Linked DNA regions of Homo sapiens. The protein of the gene in region 3 purifies or fractionates together with the protein of the main gene of each other region. This does not show direct contact. Each region holds a gene or a part of one and is shown on either strand. Other genes may lie near its edges.

What was found.
Region 1: the proteins of SERINC1 (region 3) and HTR1E purify together in Homo sapiens (co-immunoprecipitation; one large-scale study listed by IntAct). This does not show direct contact.
Region 2: the proteins of SERINC1 (region 3) and HCN1 purify together in Homo sapiens (co-immunoprecipitation; one large-scale study listed by IntAct). This does not show direct contact.
Region 4: the proteins of SERINC1 (region 3) and GPR89B purify together in Homo sapiens (affinity purification with mass spectrometry, with the first as the bait; one large-scale study listed by BioGRID). This does not show direct contact.
Region 5: the proteins of SERINC1 (region 3) and METTL9 purify together in Homo sapiens (affinity purification with mass spectrometry, with the first as the bait; one large-scale study listed by BioGRID). This does not show direct contact.
Region 6: the proteins of SERINC1 (region 3) and ABAT purify together in Homo sapiens (affinity purification with mass spectrometry; one large-scale study listed by BioGRID and IntAct). This does not show direct contact.

What each region holds. Positions count from the first base shown.
Region 1 is NC_000006.12:87,013,494-87,018,084, reverse strand, and holds the end of HTR1E (5-hydroxytryptamine receptor 1E), read right to left. Parts: intron 2,936-4,591; 5' UTR 2,751-2,935; coding exon 1,653-2,750; 3' UTR 1,406-1,652; downstream 1-1,405. UniProt on the Homo sapiens protein: G-protein coupled receptor for 5-hydroxytryptamine (serotonin). Also functions as a receptor for various alkaloids and psychoactive substances.
Region 2 is NC_000005.10:45,643,775-45,648,539, reverse strand, and holds part of HCN1 (potassium/sodium hyperpolarization-activated cyclic nucleotide-gated channel 1), read left to right. Parts: intron 1-2,931; coding exon 2,932-3,355; intron 3,356-4,765. UniProt on the Homo sapiens protein: Hyperpolarization-activated ion channel that are permeable to sodium and potassium ions. Displays lower selectivity for K(+) over Na(+) ions.
Region 3 is NC_000006.12:122,446,543-122,451,307, forward strand, and holds part of SERINC1 (serine incorporator 1), read right to left. Parts: intron 724-4,765; coding exon 579-723; intron 463-578; coding exon 232-462; intron 1-231.
Region 4 is NC_000001.11:147,926,510-147,932,054, reverse strand, and holds the start of GPR89B (Golgi pH regulator B), read right to left. Parts: upstream 3,636-5,545; 5' UTR 3,519-3,635; coding exon 3,477-3,518; intron 3,266-3,476; exon of another isoform or gene 2,977-3,265; intron 1-2,976. UniProt on the Homo sapiens protein: Voltage-gated channel that enables the transfer of anions such as iodide, chloride, bromide and fluoride which may function in counter-ion conductance and participates in Golgi acidification.
Region 5 is NC_000016.10:21,654,152-21,658,614, reverse strand, and holds the end of METTL9 (protein-L-histidine N-pros-methyltransferase isoform 1 precursor), read right to left. Parts: intron 3,389-4,463; coding exon 3,183-3,388; 3' UTR 1,144-3,182; downstream 1-1,143. UniProt on the Homo sapiens protein: Protein-histidine N-methyltransferase that specifically catalyzes 1-methylhistidine (pros-methylhistidine) methylation of target proteins.
Region 6 is NC_000016.10:8,778,027-8,782,791, reverse strand, and holds part of ABAT (4-aminobutyrate aminotransferase, mitochondrial isoform 1 precursor), read right to left. Parts: intron 3,314-4,765; coding exon 3,202-3,313; intron 1,543-3,201; coding exon of another isoform or gene 1,484-1,542; coding exon 1,362-1,483; 3' UTR 1-1,361. UniProt on the Homo sapiens protein: Catalyzes the conversion of gamma-aminobutyrate and L-beta-aminoisobutyrate to succinate semialdehyde and methylmalonate semialdehyde, respectively. Can also convert delta-aminovalerate and beta-alanine.

The DNA.
Region 1 (4,591 bases), about 35 Mb from region 3:
GTGGAAAGGAGGCAAATCAATGTCTTCTCCCTACAAAGAAGAGTGAAGAGATGGGGAGAGGCTGTGGATGACAGACTAGGAGCAGAGGTTGAGAACGGTCACCTACTTAGGAGTATGCAAGAATGTACAAACTTTCAGTCCTCCTACCATCACTCTTGATTTTGTAATGGTGTACTCCTCCATGTGACTAGAGCAATCACTCCTTCTCAGGCCACACCCAGGGCTTCAGGTCCCACCTGCAGCCTCCTGGCCCCAGGGTACAGTCTGGCACAGAAGCCACAGGGATTCTGGGAGACGCAATTTCATTCTCATATCCTGATGAGTGGCCTTTGGTGTAAACACAGTTTTTCAACTTTTACTTTTTTTCCCCAAGAGCACAACTGGTAATTTTTTTTTTTTTTTTGAGACAGGGTCTCATTCTGTTGCCTAGGCTGGAGTGCAGTGGCATGATCTCTTCTCAGTGCAACCTCTGCCTCCCAGGTTCAAGTCATTTTCCTGCCTCAGCCTCCTGAGTAGCTGGGATTACAGGCACGTGCCACCATGCCTGGCTAATTTTTGCCCTTTTAGCAGAAATGGGGCTTCACCATGTTGGCCAGCTTGGTCTCGAACTCCTGACCTCAGGTGATGCACCTGCCTTGGCCTCCCGAAGTGCTGGGATTACAGGCGTGAGCCACCACGCCCGGCTGCAACTGGTAATTTAATGAGTAATAGTCTCCAATGAAGTTCTTCAGATAATATATTCTGTCATTTGATCACTGCACCTCATTAAGCTTCTTAAAAAGTTTCCCAAATTTGACATGTACTCCTACCTTTGTCCTGCTACAGTGAAAGTGTATATGGGTGGCTTAGCTGGGATAGATTTTAGAATTGGAGGAGGCCCAATGTGTCTGTCAGGTAATATTGCAACACACTGACCAAAGTAGATTTAGATGACTTGTTATTTGCTTTATGTTTTATATTCATAGTAAAAGACATAGAAAAGTGCCAGTGCATTTATTCCAGGTATTTCCATTTTAGAAAAAGAGGAAGTTTATTTAATCATGAACTAAAAAGGACAAGCCAGCTGTACTATTTTTACCTGAAATGAATAGGCTATGTAGTCACAGTGCTACAGCAAACGACTTTAGCTCAGGTCTGCAAGCAGTAGATGACAGCACATCACTTTCTTTTAATTCTTTATGTAGTCATGCAATTCCCACTGGAATATGTACGCAGATAGAGCCATAATCTCAGATTTAATGCCATGGAGGGCATTATCAGGTATTTAATTTATAAGTAATAAGAAATTCTGCAAATAAAGATATTTTTGGCATTCTTTAATTGCAGGGTAACTGAAATGGCTAAAAAAAAAAAACCCATAAAAGGTATTTAGTATTTCATCTTATTATTACTTCTACAAAATTTCTGTTTTTGTATGATAATGTTTATTTGAAATTATGTATCACAGATAAGACCAGAGGTAGAAAACAGCACGCCAAATAACAATCCTCAAACAAAACAGAACAAAACAAACAAACAAACAAGGAAACAAGACCACACATACTTACAAACTCTCCTGAACCAAGTATGTTCAAGAATTAATAAGTTGCACCCCTTACCCCCATCCACTCATGAGGCTCTGGAAAAAGTCGTGCCTTTTAGCTTTTTACAGTCTAAGTATGCTCTCGGCATCTAATGAGCTTTTTAAAAGCCAGCTTAAAGTCTTCATTAAAACTCGTATAGAGCAGAGGGTTGATCAGAGAATTCACATAACCGAGCCACGTCAGAAAGTCGGCCACTTCCGAGGACACGGTGTAGATGCTCAGACCCACAATCAACTCTTTGATGAAAAATGGCAGCCAGGATAAAATGAATGCACCCAGAATCAGCCCCAGGATGCGTGCTGCCTTCCGTTCCCTGGTGCTAGAGATCTGCTGACGTTCTCCTGGGTGATCTAGATCATTGTCGAAGGGGGGGATCCTGATGGAGGCATGGAACTTTTCAAACTCTGTGGTAGGGTCTGAGGTGGAGAAGTCAGACACACAGAAAGTCTGTGTAAGTTTACAACTTGCAAAAGAATTCTGGCTATCTGTGCTTCTGTTGCTTAAGTGCCGACTTGATCCCCTTTTCTGGTAAAGGCTCTTGGCCGCGTGGTAAATCCGGTAATAGAGAATCAGTATCAAAGTCAAGGGGATATAAAACGCACCCAGCGTGGAGTAAATGGTGTAGATAACATGGTCGTGCTGGATGGTGCACTGACTAGGGGGAGGGCTTAGGCGGCGGTGGCTTCTCCAGAACAGAGGGGGCATGGAGATGAAAATGGAGATGGTCCAGACGGTAAGGATCATCAGCGCGGCCCTCTTGGCCGTCCTCTTCCTGGCGTATTCAATAGCATTGGTGATGGCCCAGTACCTGTCCAGGGCAATGACACAGAGGTGGAGGATGGAGCAGGTGCAGCAGGTCATGTCCACACTCAGCCACACCTCACAGAGGAAGTACCCAAGCTTCCAGCGATCCATGACAATGTAGATGATGCTCAGGGGCATGACGAGCACTGCCACCAGGAGGTCCGTCACGGCCAGAGAACAGATTAGGTAGTTGGCAGGCTGGTGGAGCTTCTTGGTGGTGCCAATAGCCATGATCACAGCCAAGTTCAGCAACGTGGTGAGGGTGGTGATGACCACCAGAGTCATGCAAATGAGCATCTTCTCAGTGATGGTCTTGGGTCTTATAGCCATGCTGGCCTCTGTGGTACAGTTTGTGATGTTCATGTTTCCCTTGTTTCAGTCTACACTGTGGAGAAGCTGTTGGTTATTTTCCTTTGGCTGAAAACTATGTAGCCTCGAAGGTTTCTCACTTGTAAGGAGGCTATAATTTGTTCAGCTATGTGGTCTCTTGTGTTCCATTTTCTGTTGGTAAAGGGAAGGGCCACAGCATTTCTTCTGAGTGAAGGTTCCTGGAAAATATTATGCTATTGGTTAATGAATGAGAAAGCCACACTTTTCCTGGAAAACATGAAAATAGTTTGATATTTATAAATTCTTTATAAATTTTAATTTTCTCTTTCCTGTGGAACTTGAGCTCATCGTTACATTGTTCCTCAAAGGATACTTTTTTTACTTCAGGGAAGTTTTCAAACTGTTTTTTTTTAAATTATACTTTAAGTTCTGGGATACATGTGCAGAACTTGCAGGTTTGCTACATAGGTATACATGTGCCATGGTGGTTTGCTGCACCCAACAACCAATCATCTACATTAGGTACTTCTCCTAATGCCATCCCTCCCCTAGCCCTCCACCCCCCAACAGGCCCTGGTGTGTCATGTTCCCGGCCCTGTGCCCATGTGTTCTCATTGTTCAACTCCCACTCGTGAGTGAGAGCATGTGGTGTTTGGTTTTCTGTTCCTGTGTTAGTTTGTTGAGAATATGGTTTCCAACTCATCCATGTCCCTGCAAAGGACATGAACTCATCCTTTTTTATGGCTGCATAGTATTCCATGATGTATATGTGCCACATTTTCTTTATCCAGTCTATCACTGATGGGCATTTGGGTTGGTTCCAAGTCTTTGCTATTGTGAATAGTGCTGCAATAAACATACATGTCCATGTGTCTTTAGAGTAGAATAATTTAAAATCCTTTGGGTATATACCCAGTAATAGGATTGCTGAGTCAAATGTTATTTCTGGTTCTGGAACCTTGAGGAATCGCCATACTGTCTTCCACAATGGTTGATCTAATTTACACTCCCACCAACAGTGTAAAAGCATTCCTATTTCTTCACATCCTTTCCAGCATCTGTTGCTTCCTGCCTTATTATTATTATTATTATTATTATTATTATTATTATTATACTTTAAGTTCTAGGGTACAGGTGCACAACATGCAGGTTTGTTACATATGTATACATGTGCCGTGTTGGTTTGCTGCATCCTTTAACTCGTCATTTACATTAGGTATTTCTCCTAATGCTATCACTCCCCCGTCCCCCGACCCCACGACAGGCCCGGGTGTGTGGTGTTCCCTGCCCTGTGTCCAGGTGTTCTCATTGTTCAATTCCCACCTATGAGTGAGAACATGTGGTGTCTGGTTTTCTGTCCTTGCGATAGTTTGCTCAGAATGATGGCTTTTTAATGATCACCATTCTAACTGGCGTGAAATGGTATCTCATTGTGGTTTTGATTTGCATTTCTCTAATGACAGTGATGATGAGCTTTTTTTCATATGTTTGTTGGTTGCATAAATGTTTTCTTTTGAGAAGTGGCTGTTCATATCCTTCGCCCACTTTTTGATGGGGTTGTTTGTTTTTTTCCTATAAATTTGTTCAAATCGTTTTTGACAAAAACATCACAAAATTTTAAATGTACTTTGCCACCCCAATTAATTTCTTATTTATATTTATTCTTTTATACATGTTTATATATAAAAAGGCTTTTTTTTACATTTGAAAATATATATTCATATTATGTAACATTAAACATTCTGGGGCCGTTAAAGAAAAAATTATATTGCTTATAATAAGCAGCTTTCAAATCAGATTTTAAACTTTCACAGTAAATATGCTGGCGTGGTGGCTCACACCTGTAATCCCAGCACTTTGGAAAGTTAACTGCA
Region 2 (4,765 bases), on a different chromosome or scaffold from region 3:
AAGGAATGAATCCATGCTAACTAAAGACAATATTATGTAAGCATATAAAAGCACCTGTGGTTTTGTCTGCAAAATAGAGTCGATGTTACTTTAAAAGGATATTATGGGGTTTAACAGAGTTTCCTACTGGTATTGAGATATCTAATGGCTTCAGACCATATTAAGTATTGCTAGCAAAAAGCTATAGTGTGATAAGCATTATTACTGTAGTAAAGAATGAATGGTGCTTTCTTTTCATCTCTATTGCTCTGAGGGATGGGATATTAGTTTTCCTTCAAAAAAAGCTTCTATCTTAATTACAGAAATGCAAAGATGTCTGTAGAAATGAGTATTTTTCATTAGGTTGCTGGGTGCTTCCCACAAAATTGGATTTCTTGTGGTAAGTGAGGAAGGGTAAATGGGTAGTGACTAGGCCACTGGCATTGTGTGCCACAATTATATGCCAGGCCCTGGGATTAGCATATATCGTCTCGTTTAATCCATAAAACCCTGTATATTTGGCTCTGTAATAATCTTCTTTGAACAGGTTAGAAAATGTAAAATAAAATCATTTAATTGGCTTGTATTTAAATAAAACAGCTGGTAAGACTTTCTGAATGAGGACAGCTGCAGTGGGAATAGTAAAGTGCAAATGGATGAATACAACATACATTTAGGTGTGAGAACTAAACAGCCTTGGTGATCAATTGGATATGGGTTTGAGCAGATTTAGGGCCAGGAGTTATTTAGGATGGCTCCATGGTTTCTGGCTTGCAAATCACACATAGAGTTATTCCATTCCCTGAGATAGGGGATATGTGAGGAATATATGTGGGAGAGGAGATTATGAGTTTGAGCTTAGGCATGCTGTTTGAGATGAGTGTGAGATATGCCAGGAGAGAGATTTAACGGGCTACTGATTATGAGGATTAGGAGGCTTAGAAGATAGGAATGGACTGAAGATAAAGCTTTTGGGGTCATCAGTTACAAATTAATTATTAAAGGCATGGATAAGTGTATAATATTTCTCAAGGGCAATGCGTAGAATAGAAGATGAAAGGGCTATGTGTGACACCCAGGGGAACAACAGCCTTGAAGGGGAGGGCAGAGAGAGAAGCTTACAGAAGGGACTTGATAGGAGTGCCCAGAAGTGAAAAATCCTCAGGGTACACACAGTTTCATTTTAGAGTTTAGTGGTGCCATTTCTTTGTGAAATAGCTGTTACAATATTGCTCCTCCTCTACATCTCTCCTCTGTCCTTATTGTGTTGAATGGTATATTTTGCATTTCCATTGTGAGAAGATATAAAACCATTTCATTTAAACTGCCAGTACATGTTGTATGGCTGACATGGGTATTTGTACAGTTGTTTCAAAAATTGCAGGCAAGTTTTGACAGAAATACTGGTGAAATCTTCAAAATAACAAACGCTTATCCTTTACAACATCCTGAGGCTGGAGACAGGGGAGATAGGGCCTATTATAGTTTTTTCTTCAACTAGTACTTTTATTTCAGGAGTCATTCTTAATTACAGATGATAGTAACTTTGAAAGCTTTATACACATGTATACCTCACCAAAATGTAGCTCAAATAGTCTAAGTAGGAGTATTCATGTAAAACAAAAATATCTTGGTAAACAGACATTTTTATCATGGAAGTTTATATTGTTTATACAAAACTCCTCAAATAACATACCTATGACTAGGATAAAGTAACTCATGTTTCTGGATACATTTCATGATTATACAGTTGTGTTTATTTTTTCATTTTTGCAAGTATATACTGTAACAACTATAAATATTTGATTAATAGGAGTGTCAACAGACTGAAAGAACCCTTATAAAAATAACACTATAGTTATGTCAAGTGAATTTAGTTAATTTAGTTAAGCTATATAAACCAGCAATGAAGTTCCTGGTTTTCTCTCAATTTTAATGTAAGTTGAGATAAGAATATTTCAAAAGGTACTTAGTAGTCATAGGCATGTTCAGAATTAAATTAGAAATGTTAAAGATTTTTTTTTAGCTGGGCATGGTGGCACGCCTGTAATGCCAGCTACTCGGGAGGCTGAGGCGGGAGGAGAATCACTTGAACTTGGGAGGCGGAGGTTTCAGTGAGCTGAGATTGTGCCATTGTACTCCAACCTGGGCAACAAGAATGAAACTCCGTCTCAAAAAAAAAAAAAAAAAAAAGAAAGAAAGAAAGAATTTTTATGGAAAAGTAGTGGCAATATATTTGAAGTAGTTGTTCAATAGAGTAGTAATAAAAACACAAATTTTAGGTAGATTCTAGTTTCAAATATGGAGTAGAACTTGCTCAGTTCTTTTTAGCATCAGACCAAAATTAGTTTTCTTATTTCAAGCAAAAGAAAAATAAAGCATAAAATATTTGGAGTACTGCAAAACTCCAGTGTATTCTAGATTCCATGGCAAAACTAATCTGTATTCCTTGAGATAAATTTGCATAACTAAAATTGTTAGAGTATCCTATTTATTTCTGGGTTTTTTTTTCTAATCTATGATTGGTAAATTGACATCTAAAATAATTCAAAACATCTTCAAAGAGCCTTCCCAAAGGCTTTCTTACAGATCTTCTAATCTTATACTTCTTTCTAGTTTCTGTCTATATTTTGTATTAAGTATAAGGTAGGTTGCTTTTTTTGCCTCTTTACTAAATAAATGGGGGTATGAATGTTTTTGATTTTATTTGTATAATGCTTCATATCACATAATTTTTAGAATTCCATAATCATAATGCCTTGGTTTAAGAATATATTAATTTTACTTAGATTTAAACATATAGCCATTTAAGGAATTACATTTTTAAAAAATAAAATCATTTCTTTGTTCTTTTACTTATTGATCTCACTATATATCAGTAATAATTTTTCATGGGGGGGATAGGCTGGTTATTTTCTATATCTTAAAATCTGATTTTTTTATTTGTTGTAGGTTTTACTGGGATTTAATAATGCTTATAATGATGGTTGGAAATCTAGTCATCATACCAGTTGGAATCACATTCTTTACAGAGCAAACAACAACACCATGGATTATTTTCAATGTGGCATCAGATACAGTTTTCCTATTGGACCTGATCATGAATTTTAGGACTGGGACTGTCAATGAAGACAGTTCTGAAATCATCCTGGACCCCAAAGTGATCAAGATGAATTATTTAAAAAGCTGGTTTGTGGTTGACTTCATCTCATCCATCCCAGTGGATTATATCTTTCTTATTGTAGAAAAAGGAATGGATTCTGAAGTTTACAAGACAGCCAGGGCACTTCGCATTGTGAGGTTTACAAAAATTCTCAGTCTCTTGCGTTTATTACGACTTTCAAGGTTAATTAGATACATACATCAATGGGAAGAGGTAAGATGCATCTTTTTCTTTTTTAAATCTATATCATGAAATTGTTAATTATGGCTGTTTTACAATGAACAACTGTGCAATGTGTAATGAGTTTTATGAAATTCAAGTAGAAAAATGTATTCGACGACTCTTTTCCATGCATAAGTGATATATTTGTATCCCTAAAATATATGATCAAATAATGGATTTGAATGAACTGAAAAAAATAGTGATCGTTTTATGCCAATTTATTTTATTTTTAAATAAATGCACTTTAATCAGCAATTATTATCTTGATCAATACAACCCCTTTCCCACCTTGGTTTTTTTTAATCTAATATAAATACATCAAGTACCATTATTTTGATAAAGATGTGTAGGGTCTGATTGCTAATCTGGCACATCATTAGCTCTGTGAGATAGTGTGGTTTTTGTATCCTCTAATATTGAAGTTTCATTGAATTCATGATTGGGTAAAACAGATTGTTTCTTTATTTCCAAATTGTATATATAAAGGCTTTGATTTTAGCATATTAATTTTGCTTATTGTTATGCCTTGCCTATAGTAACTTATTTTAGTTTCTCCCTATTAGTTCATTTCATAATACTAAAAAGGAACATATTCATGAGGGACATTAGTACATAGAAAACACAAAGAGTATAGTGAATAAATGGAGTGAATCTGACCAATCAGGCCCATATTTTGCTGAATAGAGCATCTGTTGTTAGGCAGTGGGTGGGACCTGAGAGGGCTCAGCCAACTGGAGTTTCCAAAGATCTGAGTTAAACCATCATCAAGCAAAGGAGTTCATATCCCTATCTTCAAAGTCTGAATATTAACCATTTTGACTTCCTTTTCTTCCTAAGTCTTTTTGTATTAATTATAACCTGAATTTTATAGTCTGCATAAGCGTAAGAGTCCAAAAGACTTGTAGAATGCCTAAATCGACACTAATGAAAGTCATATAAAGTCATATACTGGCTATAGAATATTGCTTTCCTCCCTACAGAAATACTTTTTAGCATTTTCAAGATAAATTATGTTTTTAAATATGTCATAAAATGGAAGTTCTGTTTGATTTCTGTGAGGCGGTAGCAGTGTTTTTGTATGTGCTTGTCAGTGACATTTTGGTTCACAGGATTTCAGGAAATGACATGCAATAATAAAACACTGCATAATACACTGATAAAAAGGCATAAAAATGGATCATTCTTAAAATATAGATATGGGATATATTTAAAATCAAATGAAGCACATTTGAGAAATCAGATTCATCTTGTAATTTTTCTCTATATAGCACATTCCATCTAAAATGGAATAAATGTTCAGTTCTCAAAGCCTTTTTATGCTAATTTGAGATTAATACCAAACCAAGATGATTCTTGCTAATAATTGCTAATATTTATTGAAGGCTTATTACACGTCAGCTA
Region 3 (4,765 bases):
AATTTTTATTTTAATCTCTCCAAGATTTGGAACTATTTCAATGTTTGTGTTACTGTTAAAGCAAGGAAGTAAAGACTGCATTTCTCATGCTGATCTCACTATTCATTTAGCTGTACATTTTGAAATATATCAGAGGATAAAAAGTACTTCATATCACATCATGGTTTCACAAGAGAATCATAAAATGCCATCAGAATTCACACATCCAGAGTTTTCATGAAATATAAATACCTGTACCAGTTGGTAAGGGTCATCATGATATAAAGTGAAGCCAGGAAAAGCATGAAGTGAAAGAAGGAATAACTGTAAGTGACACCATCCCTTTCATTATCTACAGCTCGGTGAACATCGTCCCCATCCTCCAGTGATCCATCACTTCTAGCTCCACCATCTTCTATTAATGTAGATTCATCACTTGTTAGAGTCAGTTTATTAACCTGACTATTGTTTGAAGTACGGATGCTGTATGAAAGAGAGTTTAGGAGGAGAGAAAAAAAAGAACATTTTTAAAAGAAATGATTCATAAATAAACAGCTAGACTTCTTGTTTAAAGAAAAAAATTCCATAGTTTTTCCTACCTGGAATAAAATACACACAACAAAAAGAGAATTAGTCCTATAATTCCTTGAGCATGCCACCACTGGACTGACTGCCCTTCCTTTGGGACAGTGCTTGTTGTATTGTAGCCAATTATGCTTAGTAGACTTGGGTTGCAATTTGTTTCTGTAATATAAAGCCAAATTAAAATGTTAGAATATATTAAAAAGATGTTTTTCAGAGCAAACAAAAGTTATTTTTAACTCTCTATACCCCTGCAAATTGAGAAACAATTGCTGGAAAAGGCATCAGTATAACAAAAATAATTGAAGAAAACTTGCACTTATTAATAAGACCTTTGAAGTGTTAATAGTTCTGATTTTATAGAAGTACCTGGAAAAGTTAAATCATTTAATTTTCAACAACATGTGATAGCTGAGAGATAATTACCTCTACAATCAGGAAAGAGGTGAAATATAGATGAACTTTCTAAGGTTAGTATAATTCTAGTAGATTTAGAAAGAAAATTCAGAGATTATAAACCACAATGCACTGGCTTTTCTATCATATGTTGAGATTATGATACAGACTTTATGAAGCTTATCAATTTGATACAGCACATTGTTAAAAAACCAAGACAGCTTACACAAAAACCAGTTATAAGGACTCCAGCAAATGCCTCATGGAAATTACCCAATAAAGTATAATGACCTACTGCTTACTCAAGTCTTATTCTTTTATAAAGAAGAAAGTAGGCAAGGTGCGGTGGCTCATGCCTGTAATCCCAGCACTTTGGGAGGCCGAGGCGGGCGGATCACAAGGTCAAGAGATAGAGATCATCCTGGCCAACATGGTGAAACCGCTTCTCTACTAAAAATACAAAAATCAGCTGGGCGTGGTGGCATGTGCCTGTAGTCCCAGCTACTCGGGAGGCTGAGGCAGAAAGACTCGAACCCGGGAGGCGGTTGCAGTGAGCCGAGATCATGCCACTGCATTCCAGCCTAACGACAGAGCGAGACTCTGTCTCAAAAAAAAAAAAAAAAAGTAGGATTGCTAAAATATTCACTAAAGTGTCTAAAATACATATTTTTCTCCTGCAAAGCCAGATCTGTCAAACTCCATCTTACTAATGAAAATGATTCTTACCTTAAAGCCAATTAGGTAAGGCTATTTCCTTCTCTAAAGCAAACTACTAATAATTTTTTTCTAACCACCTACCTGGAAAAAAACAGGAAATCTTTGTGTAATACATCAAAACAAAAAAACAAAAAATAAATTGGTCTCCAAGTTATAAAGTACCTATGATAAAATACCTACAGTTTGTAAACTCAATGAGATTCATATAACATCAGATAAATTTTTTAGGAAAAGAGATCATTTTCTTCTTTTTAATAGGTAATAATTTTTGTCTATTCTAATTTGTCTCCTTTCAACATATGTTTCTATTCTCATGGTATGCAATATAACTAGCCTATAATAAGATGCATTACAAAGCCCAATTATCAAATTCAATTGTAAGGTAGTCACAGGCTAAAAGAGTAATTTAATAATGTGAAAAAATTATACTGTTCACAATTGAATCAACAGGAATTTGAAGAGTTTTTCTTTCTATATACGACAATTATATGCTCTATGCAAATCAGATACCTTTCTTATAATTTCACCCAGTTTCTTACATAGACATACCTTGTTTTACTGTGCTTTGCCTATTTTTTTTTTTTTTTTTTTTTAGCATTTTACAGATACTGTTCTTTTTACAAATTGAAGGTTTGTGGCAACCCTGCATTAAACAAGTCTATTGGTTCCATTTTTTCTAACAGTATGTACTCACTTTGTTTCACATTTTGGTAATTCTTGTAATATTTCACAATTTGTCATTATTATTAATTACATCTGTTATGGTGATCTCTCATCAGTGACCTATTATGTTACTATTGTAATTTCTTTCGGGCACCACAAATCACACCCATATAAGATGGTGAAATAATCGACAAACATTGTGTGTGTTCTGACTGCTCCACCAACCAGCCATTTCCTTGTCTCTATCCCTCTCCTTGGGCCTATTTCAAGACACAACCATATGGAAATTAGGCCAGTTAATAACCCTGCAATGGCCTCTAACTGTTCAAGTAAAAGAGTCCCCTTTCTCACTTAAATCAAAAGCTAGAAATGATTAAGCTTAGTTAAGAAAGCATGCCAAAAGCTGAGACAGGTCAAAAGCTAGGCCTTCTGTTCCAGTTAGCTGAGTTGCGAATGCAAAGAAAAGAAAAAGTTCTTGAAGGATATTAAAAGTGCCACTCCAGTGAACACAAACACACAAATGATAGATAAGAAAGCAAAGCAGTCTTATTGCTGATATGGAGGAGAAAGTTTTAGTGACCTGGATAGAAGATCAAACCAGCAGAGCATTCCCTTAAGCCAAAGCCTAATCCAGAGCAAGGCCCTCTCTCTCACTTCAAGTCTATTAAGATTGAGAGAGAGAAGGAAGCTGTAGAAGAAAAGTTTGAAACTAGATGGGGTTGGTTGTTGAGGTTTAATGAAAGAAACTGTCTCCGTAACATAAAAGTATAAGGTGAACCAGTAAGTGCTGATGCAGAAGCTACAGCAAGTCATCCTAAAAATCTAGCCAACAAAATTAATGAAAGTAGCTACACTGGTCAGGCATGGTTGCTCACGCCTGTAAGTTCAGCACTTTGGGAGGCTGAGGCGGGTGGATCACCTGAGGTCAGGAGTTCGAGAACAGCCTGGCTAACATGGTGAAACCCAATCTCTACTAAAAATACAAAATTAGCTGGGTGTGGTGGCGCAGGCCTGTAATCCCAGCTATTCAGGAGGCTGAGGCAGGAGAATGGCTTACCAAGGAGACAGAAGTTGCAGTGAACGGGGATTGTGCCATTGCACTCCAGCCTGTGCAACAAGAGTGAAACTCCATCTCAAAAAAATAAAAATAAGAAAAAAGAAAGCAGCCAAACCAAACAACAGATTTTCAATAAAGACAACATAGACTTCTATTGTAAGAAGATATAATCTAGGACTTTCATAGCTATAGAGAAGTCAGTCAATGCCTGGCTTCAAAGCTTAAAAGGACAGGCTGATTCTCTTGTTAGGGACTAATGCAGACAATGATTTTAAGAGAAAGCCAATGTTCTTTACCATTCCAAAAATCCTAGGGCCCTTAAGAATTATATTAAGTCTATTCAGCCTCTCTATGAATAGAAAAAAGCCTAGATGACAGCACATCTGTTGAAAGTATGGGTTACGGAATATTTTAAGCCCATTGTTGGGACTTACTGCTAAAAGATCCTTTCAAAATATTACTACTCAATGACGATGCACCTGGGTCACCCAAAAGCTCTGATAGAGATGTACAGGGAGATTAATATTTTCATGTCTGCTAACACAGTATTTATTCTGCAGCCCATGGAAAAAGGAGTAATTTCAACGTTTAAATCTTATTATTTAAGAAATATATTTTGTAAGGCTATAGCTGCCATAGAGTAATTCCTCTGATAGATCTGGGTGGACAAAGTAAACTGAAAACCTTCTGGAAAAGATTCACCATTCTAGATGCTATTAAGAACATTCATGATTCATGGGAAAAAATGTCAAAATATCAACATTAACAGGAGTTTGAAAGAAGTTGATTCTAACCCTCATAGATGACTGAGGATTTCAAGACTTTAGTGGAGGAAGTAGCTACAGATACGGTGGAAAGAGCAAGAGAACTAAAAAGTGGAACCTGAAGATGTGACTGAATTGCTGCAATTTCATTATCAAGCCTGAATGATGAGGTGTTGCTTCTTATGGATGAACAAAGTAGTTTTTTGAGATGGAATTTACTCCTGATGAAGATGCTATGAATATTATTGAAATGACAGCAAAGGAGTTAGAATATTACATAAACTTACTTAATGAACCAGGAGCAGGTTTAAGAGGATTGACTCCAATTTGGAAGGAAATTCTACTCTGGGTCAAATGCTATCAAACAGCATCATATGCTACAGAGAAATATTTTGTGAAAGGAGGAGTCAATCAATGGGCAAACTTCATTGTGGTCTTAGTTTAAAGATACTAAAACAGCCATGCCAACCTGCAGCAACCAACACCCTGTTCGGTCAGCAGCCGTCAACATTGAGGCAAGACCTCCTACCAGCAAAAAGATTACAACTTGATGAAGGCTCAGATGACTGTTAGCATTTTTTGGAAATAAAGTACTTTCAAATTAAGG
Region 4 (5,545 bases), on a different chromosome or scaffold from region 3:
AGAGAAAACAAGCAAAAATTTTAAGTTTATATGGTGGGGAGGGGAATGGAAGAAAAGAGAAACAGATATATACCTTTAATATTTCATTGTGGCCTCCTTTCACATTGACAAAGAAAGCTTAAAAAGACTTTCAGAACAAAATTATGTCCTTTGCAGCAACACAGATGCAGCTAGAGGCCATCATCCTAAGCAAATTAACCCAAGAACAGAAAACCAAATACCACATGTTCTCACTTCTAAGTGGGAGCTAAATATTGGGTACTCACCAACATAAAGATGGCAAAAACAGAAACTGGAGACTACTTGGGGGCAGGGGAGGGGAGAAGGGGGAAGGGTTGAAAAACTAATTATTGAGTACTACGCTCAGTACCTGGGTGACCGGATCATTTGTACCCCAAACCTCAGCTCCCACAATATACCCAGCACAAGTACCAAATCTAAAATAAAATAAAAGTTGAAAAAAAAAAAAGACTTAAACTACACACACACACACAAGTAGCTGGAGAATTCATTTACATCCAAGTAAACACAAATTCTGGCAAGATTATAGAGGATCCAAAAAGAAAGCAGAAGCAAAATGCAATTTCAAATAGCTTTGCAAATAAAATGGAAGGCGTATAGCTTCTTATTAAAAATGAGACTTAATACTTTCAGAATTGTACAGAGTCTTGACCTTAGGACTTAAGAGTGTACTCTGGAACTGATAAGTCTTATGACGGTATAGAGGGCTTAAAACATGAGTTAGTTAACAGTTGCTTTTTAAAAAGTGACTTCTGGGTTGAAAATTAGCTACTGTTAAAAAAAAAAAGATGGCCATCAGCAGGACAGTTATTAAAGAATTAACTATAAAAGACACCTTTCTTGGATCATTTATTCACCCTTTTAATCATTTAACAAATATTTATTAGTGCCTAATATGTGCCAGGTCCAAGGGATAGAATGGCAAATGAGAGCATGAATGCTACTCTCAAGGAGTTTATAATCTATGGAGGAGATAAACAAGTAATTACAAAACAATGTGGTAGTGTTGTTACAGGGGAAGTAGGTGAAGGGTACTATGGCAGTAGGTATAGGGACATCTAGTCCAGTCTAGGGGAAGCTTCTTGGGTGTTCAACTTGAGATCTGAAGGCTTAAAGGGGAGGGATATGAGGAAAAGGCCCAGAAAGAGAAAACACACTGTGTGGAAATCTGGAGGCACCATAGCATGGCCAGGTTAGGGAACTAAAAGAAGTTCAGGAAGTCTAAAGAATAAATTGGAGCCACAGCTGAAGAGAGAAGAGCCAGGGTCCCATCAATAAGGGACCTGAAAAGCCATGTAAAGGAGTTTGAACTTCATCCTGTGCCGTGGTGAGCAAGATTCAATACGTGACCTCTGATTTCAGATTTCATTTCAAATAAACCTTTCAGTTAATACAAAACAGAAAAAATGAGCAGGGAGGGGCGCAGGGGGCAATGGTGGTGTTTCCAAGGTAACCACACCTCTCTAGAGAGGTGCTTTTTATTAAACAAATATTCACTACAACTCTACTATGTGCCTGCAACTGATCTAGATGCTGGTGAATACAGGAGAGAACAAGACAGACAGTATCTTGGACTTCATGGACAGATAACAAACACATGAATATACAAATGAACCATAGTAATAAATGCCAAGAAGATAATAAAACATGGAAATGAGGAAGAAGGCAGCCGAAATGGAAAGCTACTTTGGTTGTGGGCAGGGTGTCAGGTAAAACCTTCCTAAAGCGACATTTTTATTAATACCGAAAGGATGATAAAGTAGCCACATAAATATCTGAACAGAGAACATTCCATGCAAAGGAATCTTTGGGTCTTTCTTCCACATTTGTAAAAACCAGGTTTAACAATTAATTACTGCATATGGATACATGTGTGAAGTGAAAGTCTATGATTATAAGGCATACAAAATTAGAAAGCCACTTCCTTGGTTCAACGTATCAATTATATCCATGCTAAAAATCGTAGAGGCTGCAATGCAAAGCCAATTTTCTACTGACATTCTTATCTTTATTCTAAGTGAAAAGAAAAGCTAATTAAATATTGTTATTTTTCTTAAATTGGTACTAAGGCTAAAAATAATCCTGAGTTGTCACCAAGGGCACTGGGTAGTCTTAGAAAGGTTTTAAGCAGAAGAGTTACATGTCTAGGTTTTTTTACATTAATACATTTGAATACTATGCAGCCAATAAAAACAATACTTATGAAAACTATAGAAAAGGTGGTAAATTTTAAAAATGAAAAACTATTGCATTAGAGCGGTAGGATTATGGATGGCTTTTCCTTCTTTCTTATTTTCTTAAATATTGTAAACAAGTTTTTGAAGAGAAAAGGACAATGCTCCGCTCTACGGAGACGAGTATTAGGATGAAGCAATACAAAAACTGAATCAAAGAACACAAATTTAGTTCACTTTAAGCCCCCAAAGGTAACTGTTTCTGTTATTTGCCGTTTGAGAGAAAGAACAAGCAAAAACAAACACACACACACAAAATCTTTATTGGAAAGATGAGGGGAAGAAGGTCAACAGGCAGTCTGAGCTTCACAAATATTGGCCAACAATTATTTATTGAATGCCTGCATTTGGAAGTGGGGATACAGCTATGAACAAGGCAGGATCTCAAAAAACAAAATCAGAAACACAGACATAAATGATGCCAGTGCTATGATGAATGCTAGGAAGAAACAATAATTAACAATAGATTACATGGTAAAAGCAAGAGGCTAACTAGACGAAACTTCTATTGAGCAGAGACAGTGTCTTACATGTTTTTACGCTCAGAGCTTTATATAATGGTCGATAAATGTTTGTTGACTGTACAAACAAATGAAGGTGGCCAATGGAGAAGAAATGAGGGTCAGAAAAACATCCGGAAAAGGTGGGTAACTAAGCAGAGGATAAAGGACGAGGTGTCAGTGCAAAAACGAAACCTTATACTTTCAAGCATAGGTATTACCTTATACTGATACTTTGAAGCAGCAAATTTCTCCACACCCGGATTCAGGATTTGACATCTAACAGCAAAGCCTGCACTGACGTGTCCTCAGTATCCAGTATTGGCGCGTCGCACACCGCGCGCCCAGAACCACACAGGCTTCCCCAGTCCAGGATCAGTTGGCGCAGCCCGGAAGCTTCGAGGAGCTCCTAGAACCGCCGCCTTAGCTGGCGGCGCCGGCTCTTAGCCTGGAGGTCGGCGGACCGCTTCCAAAAGTGGACCGAAATTCCGGGGATGGATGCCGGGTGGGGACGCGGACGGCCGCAGGCCAGCCTCCTGACAGCCGGGGCTGAGGGAACCGGCCGCAGCAAATCGCACACCCTCTCTGTGTGCCAGAGTGACTGGCGCAGGCCGCGTAAGAGAGGAGCGAGACCCCGGACCAGCCCGCACCGCGGAGGACCGGAGAGGGCGATTCGGTGAAGGGAGGCGGACGGGTGTCGGGGCGGGAGGCGGTGACTCACCTGGGAGGTAATCATGATGCTGGAGTCGATCAGGAAACTCATGGCGAAGTGTAAGGAAGGCTCCTGCCTCCACTTCCCACTCCCGGAGGCCACAGCACGCTGGGGCCACAGGCCCCCTCACACGGTCTGCCTTCTCCCAGGTGCTGCAGCCGGGACTGCGGCTCTCCAGCCCGACGCCGTCAAGCTGCGCCCCAGTCAGCCAATCAGCGGCTACATCCACAGCCCCGCCTCGGGCTCGGGGTGGGTGGGGCGGACGCTAGGCTTCCGCCGCGGAAGCCCCAGGGGCGGGGCTTATTAGGGGCGGTGCTAAAAGCAGCAATGCAAGGTAGCGTTAACGTTTCTGAGGCTGAAGGAGGTAGGGCCTGAGAGCTAAGTGGTAATTCTGTTTTGTAATGATCCTAAGATAATAATGGTAATTATAGTAAGTCGGGCATTGTGTCCTAAATGTTATAACTTTTACTTGACTCGGCAAATATGACTGTACAAAGTGAGGGAAGACTGGAAAGTCAGATGAGATATGAACAAATATAACTAACCAAATACATTTCTGTGACAACAATGAAAAGCACACTGTCTGTAGCAATTTAGTGATAATATTGTACTGCATATCAGTCAGGCCACAGGTGGAGTACTGCACTCCATGTACCACACTTTGAAGAGATTTTACAGGCCGGGCCGGCTCACACCTGTAATCCCAGCACCTGGGGAGACCAAGGCGGGCGGATCACCTGAGGTCGCAAGTTCAAAACCAGCCTGACAAGCATGGAGAAACCCTGTCTCTACTAAAAATACAAAATTAGCCGGGCGTGGTGGTGCATGCCTGTAATCCCAACTACTAGGGAGGCTGAGGCAGGAGAATCGCTTGAACCCGGGAGGGGAGGTTGCGGTGAGCCGAGATCGCGCCATTGCACTCCAGCCTGGGCAACAAGAGCGAAACTCCATCTCAAAAAAAAAAAAAGAAAAGAAAAAAGAAGAGAGAGATTCTACAGAGACATATTGGAGCTCGCTCAAATGTGAGCCACCAGATAAGGGCTGCTGGAAGGAGGCGAAGAAAGATGACTCAGAACATGACATCTGTCTTCATGTGAAAGAATGGGTAGAACTGATGTGGCACTACGAATTATCTGTAGGGCAAAGGACTGGAAGTTAATTGAAGATAGATTTTAATTCAAAACAAGGATCAGTTCTTTAAGAGTCTGAAGAAGGGTTATTTTAGGAAGTAGCTGCCTCTGCCCCCTTCCCACCTGTTGCAGTGGATCAAATATACACTGAATCACTACCTCATTCATTCAACACTCATTTCATGAAGGCTTAACGCATTGCTGTGGGGCTTACTCTGCCGCCGACCTGGGGCCTAGCTAGGCTTTGTAGTCTATATAGTCTCATAGTCCTGCAAACTGGCTCCAGCCCAGGAAATCACCCTGTGTAGGAGTGGCTGCAGTCAAGACGCAGGAAGACAATCCTGAGGGGACCTGACATCCAGCATCTGAGTTCAGACTACTATAGTTTGAATAAGTGACCTGCAGATTCATTACACACAAGGGAACATGTCTTCCTTTTGTTGGATTGAACTCTGTGATACCAAGCAGTCAAAACTACCTGTCAGATGTCCAATCCCTGATCCAGAATTTCAAGGAGCTGTGGAGGCAGCTGTACAATGGGAGTGTCATAAACCAGAGAACTTTGTGTCCAGGCTATGTCTATTAGGTAAGCAGGTAGATTCCCACATAACAGCACCTAACTGACATTCAAGAGTGTGTAGAGTGCAGAGTGCTGAAAGAGACTATCAAGGCAAGCAGTTTACCTTGGTGGCTTACTGGGGTGCACAGTGGGGATCAGAATATCAGTAACGAGGAATAGCAGAGAAAGGTGTGCAATACCTGCTGGCCTAAGGCCTATGCAAAGCTTTGGGTGACACTATTCAGAATTCTCCCTACTGTACCACTTGTGTCCAGGTAAAGGACAGGCCTAGGTGATTCAAGCGACTGCTTTATCCCCTGATTTTGATTGAGGAATGTCTTTAGAAACCTTCGCACAGCATTTAGTATCCAATTGACTCTCCTTTCAAA
Region 5 (4,463 bases), on a different chromosome or scaffold from region 3:
GCTAAGGCAGGATTGATTGAACCCAGGAGGCAAAGGTTGAAGTGAGCTGAGATTGCATCACTGCACTCCAGCCTGGGCAACAGAGTGAGACTCTGTCTCAGGAAAAAAAAAAAAAGAAGAATAAGCCGGTCACAAAAAGGCAAATACTGTGTAATTCCAATTATATGGGAGGTGACTGGATCATGGGGCGGATCATGACTACCTAGAGTAGTCAAAGGGACAGAAAGTAGAATGATAGTTGCTAGAGGGTGGGGTGGAGACAATGGAGAGTTGTGTTTATGAACATAGTTTCAGTTTTGCAAGATAAAGGGAGTGCTAGGCCAGGGACAGTGGCTAACACCTGCAGTCCCAACACTTTGGGAGGCCAAGGTAGAAGGATCACTTGAGGCCAGGAGTTTAAGACCAGCCTAGGCAACATAGTCCTGATTTGTCTCAAGTTACTTATGAGCCCAGTTTTGTGCTCAGTGCACTCCTAGACAGTACAACTCAGTCCAGGCTGCCCTGATTCCATGCACTATCTTCTAGCCGGCGGAAGCACTGGATATAAGGTAACTGGGGGTGCTTAAGCATCTGCACTAACATGGTAGGTCACTTTAGTCACTGGAAGCCCATGATACTATACTGACATTGCTGGAGAAAAAGGATCATGTAACACCTCCATCAGTAACCAAGTAGTGGGAAGCAATTAATGAAAACATCTTGCTTCATTAATACTGTAAATAACATACGCAGTATAGCCTATTAATACTATACTCAGAACCAAGTGAAAACAAAGCTTTGCTCAGGAAGACTTGAAACATCTACACTTTATTTTCCAACTCAACTTTTTTCTGTTAAAAGCCAACCATGTAAAAACTGATGACAGGTCACACTGGATGGCAGAAAATACAGTACTGCTTTTAACTACTCTGTACAAGGGATAAATGACTAAGGGCACTGTACCTCCTTTCCTCCCCTTCTCTGAGATCAGTGGTCTGAGCACTTTAGGAGCTTAAAATGCAGGTGCAGGGAGCTAGGAATCAGAGGTGTGGCTTGCATTTCAACCTTTAAGGTCAATTGGTTAGCTTGCTTTTACCACAAATAAAGCTCTTCTTAATTTCTCTAGTACAGTCTTAACTTGATATGAAGCACTTACACGAGGAATGGTGCAGACAAGGCAGCTTTATTGTACTTTGGGGGAGAAAAACATGATTCCATTTACGGGGAAAAAAGCCATTGACACTCAGTAAGCAACACTGCCATCTAGTGGAATGGTGACACACCACCAAGAATTTCAAGACCCGATAGGAAATGTGAGTGGATTTGGTTTCAATTTTCACCACAAAACAGCACTTTTAATAAGCTGGTTTTCAGAGAACTTCAGATTTTTTTGAGAAACTACTTTTTATCTTTAAAATGCATAAATGTATGTGTTTTCTCTGTTTTGGGGGGGTGGTTAAGAATGAGTTGTATTTTTCTTATTAGAGCATAAAGTTCTCTACTTGAAAGTTAGAAAACACTTTGGGGCAACCTGCCTCCTTGAACATCCATCACTTCTGCTTGACAGTCTAACAGCAACCCCTGATTTTAACAGACAGTTTATAAAGAAGCAAAACTCAACTGTACAAGAACGACATTAAGTTTTCTCATTTCCTCTTTCTATTTTTACAATCTATGGTGCTAAGTATTTGTACTTCACTTACTTGAATTCCTGGAAAAAAATCATTAGAACACACCAATAACAATTTTGCATAAATCACATAACCCAACTCTTATTATGACTGCACAGTAACAGTGGAAGATATTGGTGTGAGGATGTGGGAATGCAGTTCTTAATGAATAATAAAGTAATTCTTCAGGTTTTAATTCGCCTTTATACCCAGGTGTTGGAGTGAATGTGTTGATCTGATGACTTCTATGAGCATATAAATGAGAATACTTAATGAAACACCTGGATGAAAAAAGAAATAAAGTAGTGAGGATAACATATTGTTAATAACCACAATCTCATATTGACATTTCTGTTATTACTGAGATTTCAGATTCTGGGTTAAATGCTCTGCTCTTTGGAATATCCACGATGGTTATTGATCTTGCTAATGGGTTCCTCTATGGCAGCATTTCTGGGTTTATGGTTGGAGGCACTCACGGATTCCAGAATGCATGAGTCTGACACGGTCTTCATCAAACCATATTCTTGGCAAATAATAAACTCCTTTAAGGATTTCAGGGAAGAGCCAAGCTCTGGGAGAGAGGTATATAAGTGTAGAGTAAGAAGTTGAATTAAAACATTTTTAGTTGCATTTTGTCAGTAGACAAAACTGAATGTTTCAATTCTGAGAACCTGAGATTGTCCAGAAAAAAACAAAGTTCAGTGTATGGGACATGAGTGATCACAAAGTCAGAACCAGGTTATTTTGCATTTTTCACAGCAGCATTAACTGGGGGGGTGGGGGGAGGGGTCCCTGAAGTTCTGTATCTGAATGAGGCTGGGTTTTTGTTTCTGTTTTTTTTTTTTACTGACTCAGTGTTCACTGCAATTTGCAATAATCTCCCCTTCCCCCAAGTCTGAAGCCTTCCTTCCCCCCTATTCAAATTGTCTGCGTCATTCTCATAATGCTACTATTTGGGTACTCCTGAAGCCAAACCAATAAAAAATGCTAGGGGAGCTTTATATGAATTCAAACATGATGCCAAAGTCATCTCCAAAAAAGTTTATTAGCATGATTAAAAACATTTTCTTGAATAATAACAGAAAGAATTTCTAAACATGAAAGAATATCAGTGGCTATACCTTAAAACCAGTATTTGGAATTGAATGGACAGCTTTATTGCCAGTCTTCAAAAAACAATCCATTGATTGGTTCCATGAAGTCGTGACTATTGCTTTGTCTGGGAATGAGTCCCTACTGCAATTAAGTATAAAAAATATCTTCCATCATAATTGGAGTGTGACCTGCATTGGAGAGTGGCTCTGAGTAAAGAGTTGATAAAAATCCACAAAGAGTTGGGTTTTTGTCTTTTAAAAACATTCCTTTACACACTACAAAGAAATAATTAGTATTTTGGCTTTTTAAATTCCTACATGATATTTAGAATGGCGGTCCCCAAGGGTCCTCCCTTCACGTAATTGTGAACACAGACCCTCTTCCAAGGGCACATCCCGGAGGGTGCGGACTCTGAAGACTTCGACCTCCACGTGTTTATACTGGTTTGAGAACAAAGACAGCGTCATCCAGAACGTAGTAGTCATTATACATGTCGCCTTCACACAGGTATGGTAGTCTGGTGAAAGCTTCGATAACAAAACCAGCTTTTCTGAAAACTTCAGGCAGACTATTCACTTGTTCTTCCCAGTTCTGTCCTTTGATTTCCAAAATTTCTGATGGTTTCTCCCACTTGCCACCTACTAATACAAATAAGAACATTCAGTTAAATTCTTGAACAAACAAGTGATTTAAAGAGGGAAGCAGGGAGGAGCCATATCTACCAAGGACTTGGTACGTTCCAAGCCTGAGGGCTTCATGAGTTACCTCTTTTGTACTTCCCAGGTACTCTTTGAGACAGGTGGGCAGATAAAGAACAGACTCAGAAGGGGTGAAGAACTTGCCCACGCTTGCAAGGTTAATGAGTGTCAGTATGGAAATGTAAGCCCAGGTTTGTCTGGATCCAAGGCCCCACACTGTTATCTTCTCTGACAGTTTTGGGTAGTATCTGCCAATAGACTGACTGCAGGGTGTAATGGTTAATGGGTTTGGAAAACTGGTCATTAAATGCTGGAATACTGAAACAGAGAGCAACATGTAATATCTGAAGGACAGTTTTGGACAAATGCAAGAAAATACCACTGGCATAGTAAACTTATGCAACTTACTACCTAGAGAGATTTATTAGGCTGAAAATAAAAACAGGCTCATGAAGGATTTTAATTTAGAAAAGCAGATCATTGGGGAGTTTTTCTAGGGAAGTTGACTCATTCTTTGCCTTTTCAGAACAATTTCATAAACATTAAGCTCCAGGACCAGAGAGAGATGGAACAGTAGGATGGATACACCGTCCAGCATTTCTTGGACTAGAGATGAAGCCTCTATCAGTCATTTCCAAACCTATGAGCAGGAGATGCCTGGGGGACAAGGGGACTAGGGAAGGTCCTCAAATTCACATACAAACCTGGCACTGACTACAGACACACACACAGAGATGACAGTATATTTAACTTTGGGGGTACTTTTTAGGTGCTATGGTGATACAAAAACTACATACATCTGTTGAAGTGTTAAAACCAGATTGAGGCCGGGCGTGGTGGCACATGCCTGTAATCCCAGCACTTTGGGAGGCCGAGGTGGGCGGATCACGAGGTCAGGAGATCAAGACCATCCTGACTAACACAGTGAAACCCCGTCTCTACTAAAAAAAATACAAAAAAATTAGCTGGGCATGGCAACATGCACCTGTAGTCCCAGCTACTTGGGAGGCTGAGGCAG
Region 6 (4,765 bases), on a different chromosome or scaffold from region 3:
CTTTCTCAGACTCCCCACCAAATAATACTTCTCTGCTGTCAGGCTATCAAGTTCTCTTTTAGGAGCATTCGAGGTCAAATCAGTTCCCAGAGTGTCTCACCTCCAGCAGAGATGCTACAGCCTCAGCCACAGCCCCTTTAAGCATTTCGGTATCATCTGCCTGGTAATCTCCATACTCAGTCATCTCAGGAAAATCTCTCATTTCAGGAGGATCAAGTACAAGGAAACCACGTTGAACCAACAGGCCACTTTTCCATGCATGGAGCTCTGGCACCTTTAATTCATGGTGCTTCCCTCCAGAAGAAATCCAGTCCAGCAATGATTCCCTCTGCTCTGGTGGAACAGCCAAGCTGTTCCTGGGGGTCAGCTCACAAGTGGTGTGAAGGTGGATGAGCAAAAGAGAGGAAGAGCCTCTTAGGGCGAGGGAGCCAAAAGTCAGACCTCAAGTTGCCCTGGGAAACATGATGCGATGGCTCTGCTGCCCCAGACCCTGGGCTTTTCCTCCTGGGGTGACGGGCCTGTGCTTCTAGCCCTGTGGCTCACGTGTGTCCCTGTGGACACTCAGGCTACAGTTTCCTCCCACCCAGGTCCAGGTCTAGGTTGACATTTAACAGGGAGGAGGGAGTTTGGGGAATGGAGGATGCCGAGTAAGAATCACGGGTAAGGCCACCTGGGGATCCTCCAAGGGCAAAGCCCTGTCCAGGGCAGAATTCACAGTTTAGGGGGATCCCCAGGTGCACTGAGAGGGGTGATTCTCATCTTCAGGGGGCCAGAGGACCTCTTCCCTTACTCCTGAGCTGAATCCTCCTGTCCCCATTTTACGGCCTTCCTCAGATCTGTCCAGTCCCTCCTGCACCATGCGTGGGGCGTGCTCAGAGCTCCGGGAGGCTGGGAGAGGAGGTGAGAGTGTGTTTGCTTGCATAGGGCGAGGGGGAGCCAACATCCGTGATCACAGAATATGGCACTTGAGATGGACTGGCACCCAGGAGGCCCAGCTGCCAGTCCCAGGAACAAATGTAATGCCCTTGACTGGCTTTTGGAAAAATTGCTGGGGTTGGTCAAGGTTGGGCAGAACTCTAGCCAGGACCTCCCATGGCCCTTCCCAAGATGAGTCCAGGGCTCAAGCAGGATCTCTGGGCTTAAACCAATGTGCACCATTGGCTCTGCAGGGAGGAAAATCAACACCAGCCCTTCCCTCCCCTCCCCTCCCCCAAGACCACCAAAAATGCTCCCTCCCCACAAATCACCCTTCACTGTGCATTCACCTCTGATACTTTTAAGTGAAAACATGAATTAGGCAAACTAATCAATTTGACAACTGTTGGGATCCGGGCTTTCTCACTGTAGTGGAAATGGCTTCTTTACTTGAAGTCTGCTAAGATGTCACTGAAAATATTGAGGAACAGGTGAGCGTGGTGATCCCTGAAGACCAGCGTGGGACGGAAACGAATGGATTTGTCACCACAGCCACCCAACACCACACCTGAAAGAGGCAGGAGGTAGGTGAGGAGCGTGGTTTCTCAAAGTCACATGCTGGGAGAGCTGGGGGGAAAGTGATGCCTGTTGGCAACGCTCATCCATCCATCCATCCATCCATCCATCATCCTCCATCATGGAAGCCCGGGCTTCCTTCCTACCACCCACCCATCCAGTCTTCATTTCCTTTCTCTCTCCCCTCATTCATCTCCTCCATCATTCTCTTCTTCCTTTCCTTCCCTCCACACTTCCTTTTTCCCTTCCTCCCTCCCTCTCTCCTTTGAGTGCCTGCTTTGCTGCCCCAAGCTAGGTCTGGTGATAGAGAAATCCTGAGATAAAGTCCTTGCCTTCCACAAAGTCATGGAGGAGTGGGAAAAGAAAATAGGTAAGCAAATAAGTTGCAAAAGCACAGGCTGAGTCGGAAGCATGTGTGAGGTGCTGAGCTATTACGGAGGAGGGACAGGCTCTGCTTATTTTAAAGGGTGACTTCACAGTTACAGCTGGTGTCCTTTCCTTGTCGAGGTTGTTTATGCCTTTTTTTTTTTTTTTTTTAGAGATGGAGTCTCGCGCTGTCACCCAGGCTGGGGTGCAGTGGCAACCCAGTCTCACTCACTGCAACCTCCACCTCCCAGGTTCAAGCCATTCTCCTGCCTCAGTCTCCCAAGTAGCTGGGATCACAGGTGCCGCCACCACGGCCAGCTAATTTTTGTATTTTCAGTAGAGATGAGGTTTTGCCCCGTTGGCCAGGCTGGTCTCGAACTCCTGACTTCAGCTGATCTGCCCACGTCGGCCTCCCAAAGTGCTGGGATTACAGGCGTGAGCTACTGCACCCGGCCTGTTTATGCCTTTGAGACCACGTTTTCTCATTTTTAAAATGGAGGTTGATTATCCCTGCCCTTCTGAGGCTGCTGCAAGGATTCTGTAAGATGGCACAAGAAGAACTGACAATGTGCCTGACATAGAGTACGTGCTCTGATCTCACCACAGCGTCTGCCCTTACCCCTGCCACACATGTCCTCAGTGGCTTCCCACAGCTCCTAGGATGAAGTCTGGAGTGCTAAGCCTGATCTGCAGGCCCATGCGACCCGGGCCTGGCCTCTCCTCCCCCAGCTTCATCCCCTCCCAACCGTTCGCCTTCACGCCCCCTTCTTTCCCTTTTACCACCTCTGTAAGCTCCATCCCACCTCAGGCCATCGCATGCACCCTTCCCTCCGCCCAGAATGCTCTTCCTTACCTTCTTCACCCAGCCAATCCCTGTTTGTCAAGACTTAGGGTAAAATGCTACTTCCTCAAGGGAGCCTGCCCTGATTTCCTACCCTCACCAACTGCTGCAGCTATCTGCTCTCTTAGCTGCGTTTTCTCCTTCCCAGGACTTAAAATTGCAATGGATTGGTTGTGAAATGCCATGTGTAAAGCCATGCCTTCCTGCTACACTGCATGCTTCCTGAAGGAAGGGGCTCTGATGGTCTTCATCATCACTGTAACTGTCTCCAGTGTCCACTTACAACTCACCTCCTCAGCGAACGCTTGTTGAGTAAATAAATGGATAAAGAAATCCCATTTGTAATGTTCTCTTCTTTGGAGAAAGAGCATTCAGGCTCTTTTCAGACCTGTGTACCACCTGCCCCCCACACAAAATATTGCTGAGTACCTAGCAACATGTGGCAGCTACAGCAGGAGATACTGGATGCTCATGAAACTCAGCAGCCACTCCTGACCCCTTACCTTTGTTTCTGGCAATTAAAATGAGCTTATTCCGTATGGAATCATCGGGAGTATCGAAGGAGCAAAAGGTGCCTCGTCCTCTCACCCTGCTGATGAACTGGGGGTACCGGGCCTGTAGTGGGAGGAGACAAGGCTGGCGTCAAAGCCCATCACCTGTGTACCAGCTGGGCTTAATGGCTGTGCTTCGTCAAAGGCCTCCCATGGTCCAGCCTCGGCCTCTGCATGGACTGGCAGGACCTCCAGGGGGTTAAGAGCTCTGGGGACATTCAGGCCTGGGTTCAAAGCCCAGCTGTGCACATGTGTGTTGTGTGGAGGAAAAAAACCACCACCACCACCACCAGCAACAACAACCAAGCCCAGCTCTGTCCCTCTCACTGTATAACCTTGGGCCACTCAAGTGCCTCTGTTTACCCTGCTATAAACTGAAGGATTTAAATGCTGTTGACCCCACTGGGGCCGTGGTGAGACTTTAGCACGATAAGGTTCACATGTTAAGTCCTAAGCCTGGGGCTGGGCACTTGGTGGATGCTCCACAGATGTTAGCCATCTCCATCGTCAGCTCTTCTAGAAAGGTGGTTCTTCTGGAAGAAGAAATGCCTGTCCTCCCTCAGGGCTTTGAGACTGGGAGCTGTACTGGATTGAATAGTTTCCTCCCACTGCCCCCTAAATTCATGTTTACCTGGAACCTATGACTAGGACCTAATTTGGAAATAAGGTCTTCGCAGAAATAATTAGTTAGGTTAAAATGAAGTCTTCCTGCATTAGAATGGCCCCTAATGCAATGACTGTTTTTTGTTTTTTGTTTTTTTTTTTTGAGATGGAGTCTCACTCTGTTGCCCTGGCTGGAGTGCAGTGGCACTATCTCGGCTCACTGCATCCTCTGCCTCCCAGGTTCAAAGATTCTTGTGCTTCAGCCTCCTAAATACCTGGGATTACAGGCACCTGCCATCACACCTGGCTAACTTTTTTTTGTAGTTTTAGTAGAAACTGGTTTCACAATGTAGGCCAGGCTGGTTTCGAACTCCTGACCTCAAGTGATCCACCTGCCTTGGCCTCCCAAAGTGCTGGGATTACAGGTGTGAGCCACAGCGCCCGGCTCAATGACTGGTATCTTTATAAGAAGAAGACAATCTGGAGACAGACACAGGCACAGTGGGGAGAACACCAAGTGACGCCAGAAGCAGAGTGAAGCCTCCACACGTCAAGGAACATGAAGGATTCCCGGCAGCCACGAGAAGGTGGAGAGGGGCATGGAACAGATTCTCCCCCAGAGCCTCGAGAAGGAGCCAACTCTGCTGAAACCTTGATTTCAGACCCTGGCCTCCAAACTGTGAGAGAATAAATTCTTGTTTTAACCCACACAGTTTGTGGTGATTTTTTACAGCAGACAAGGAAACAAATGCAGGTGCCTAGTCTGGAGGACCTTGATTTCACCTTACTCTCTGCTGTCCATATGAAGGACAGCAAACAAGGGCTTGGAAAACCCCAAATAATTTCAGGGTACTGGGGGCTGAGTTGGGGGAGCAAGTCTTATTTCACGGCAGCTCATTGGTAGAAACTGGAG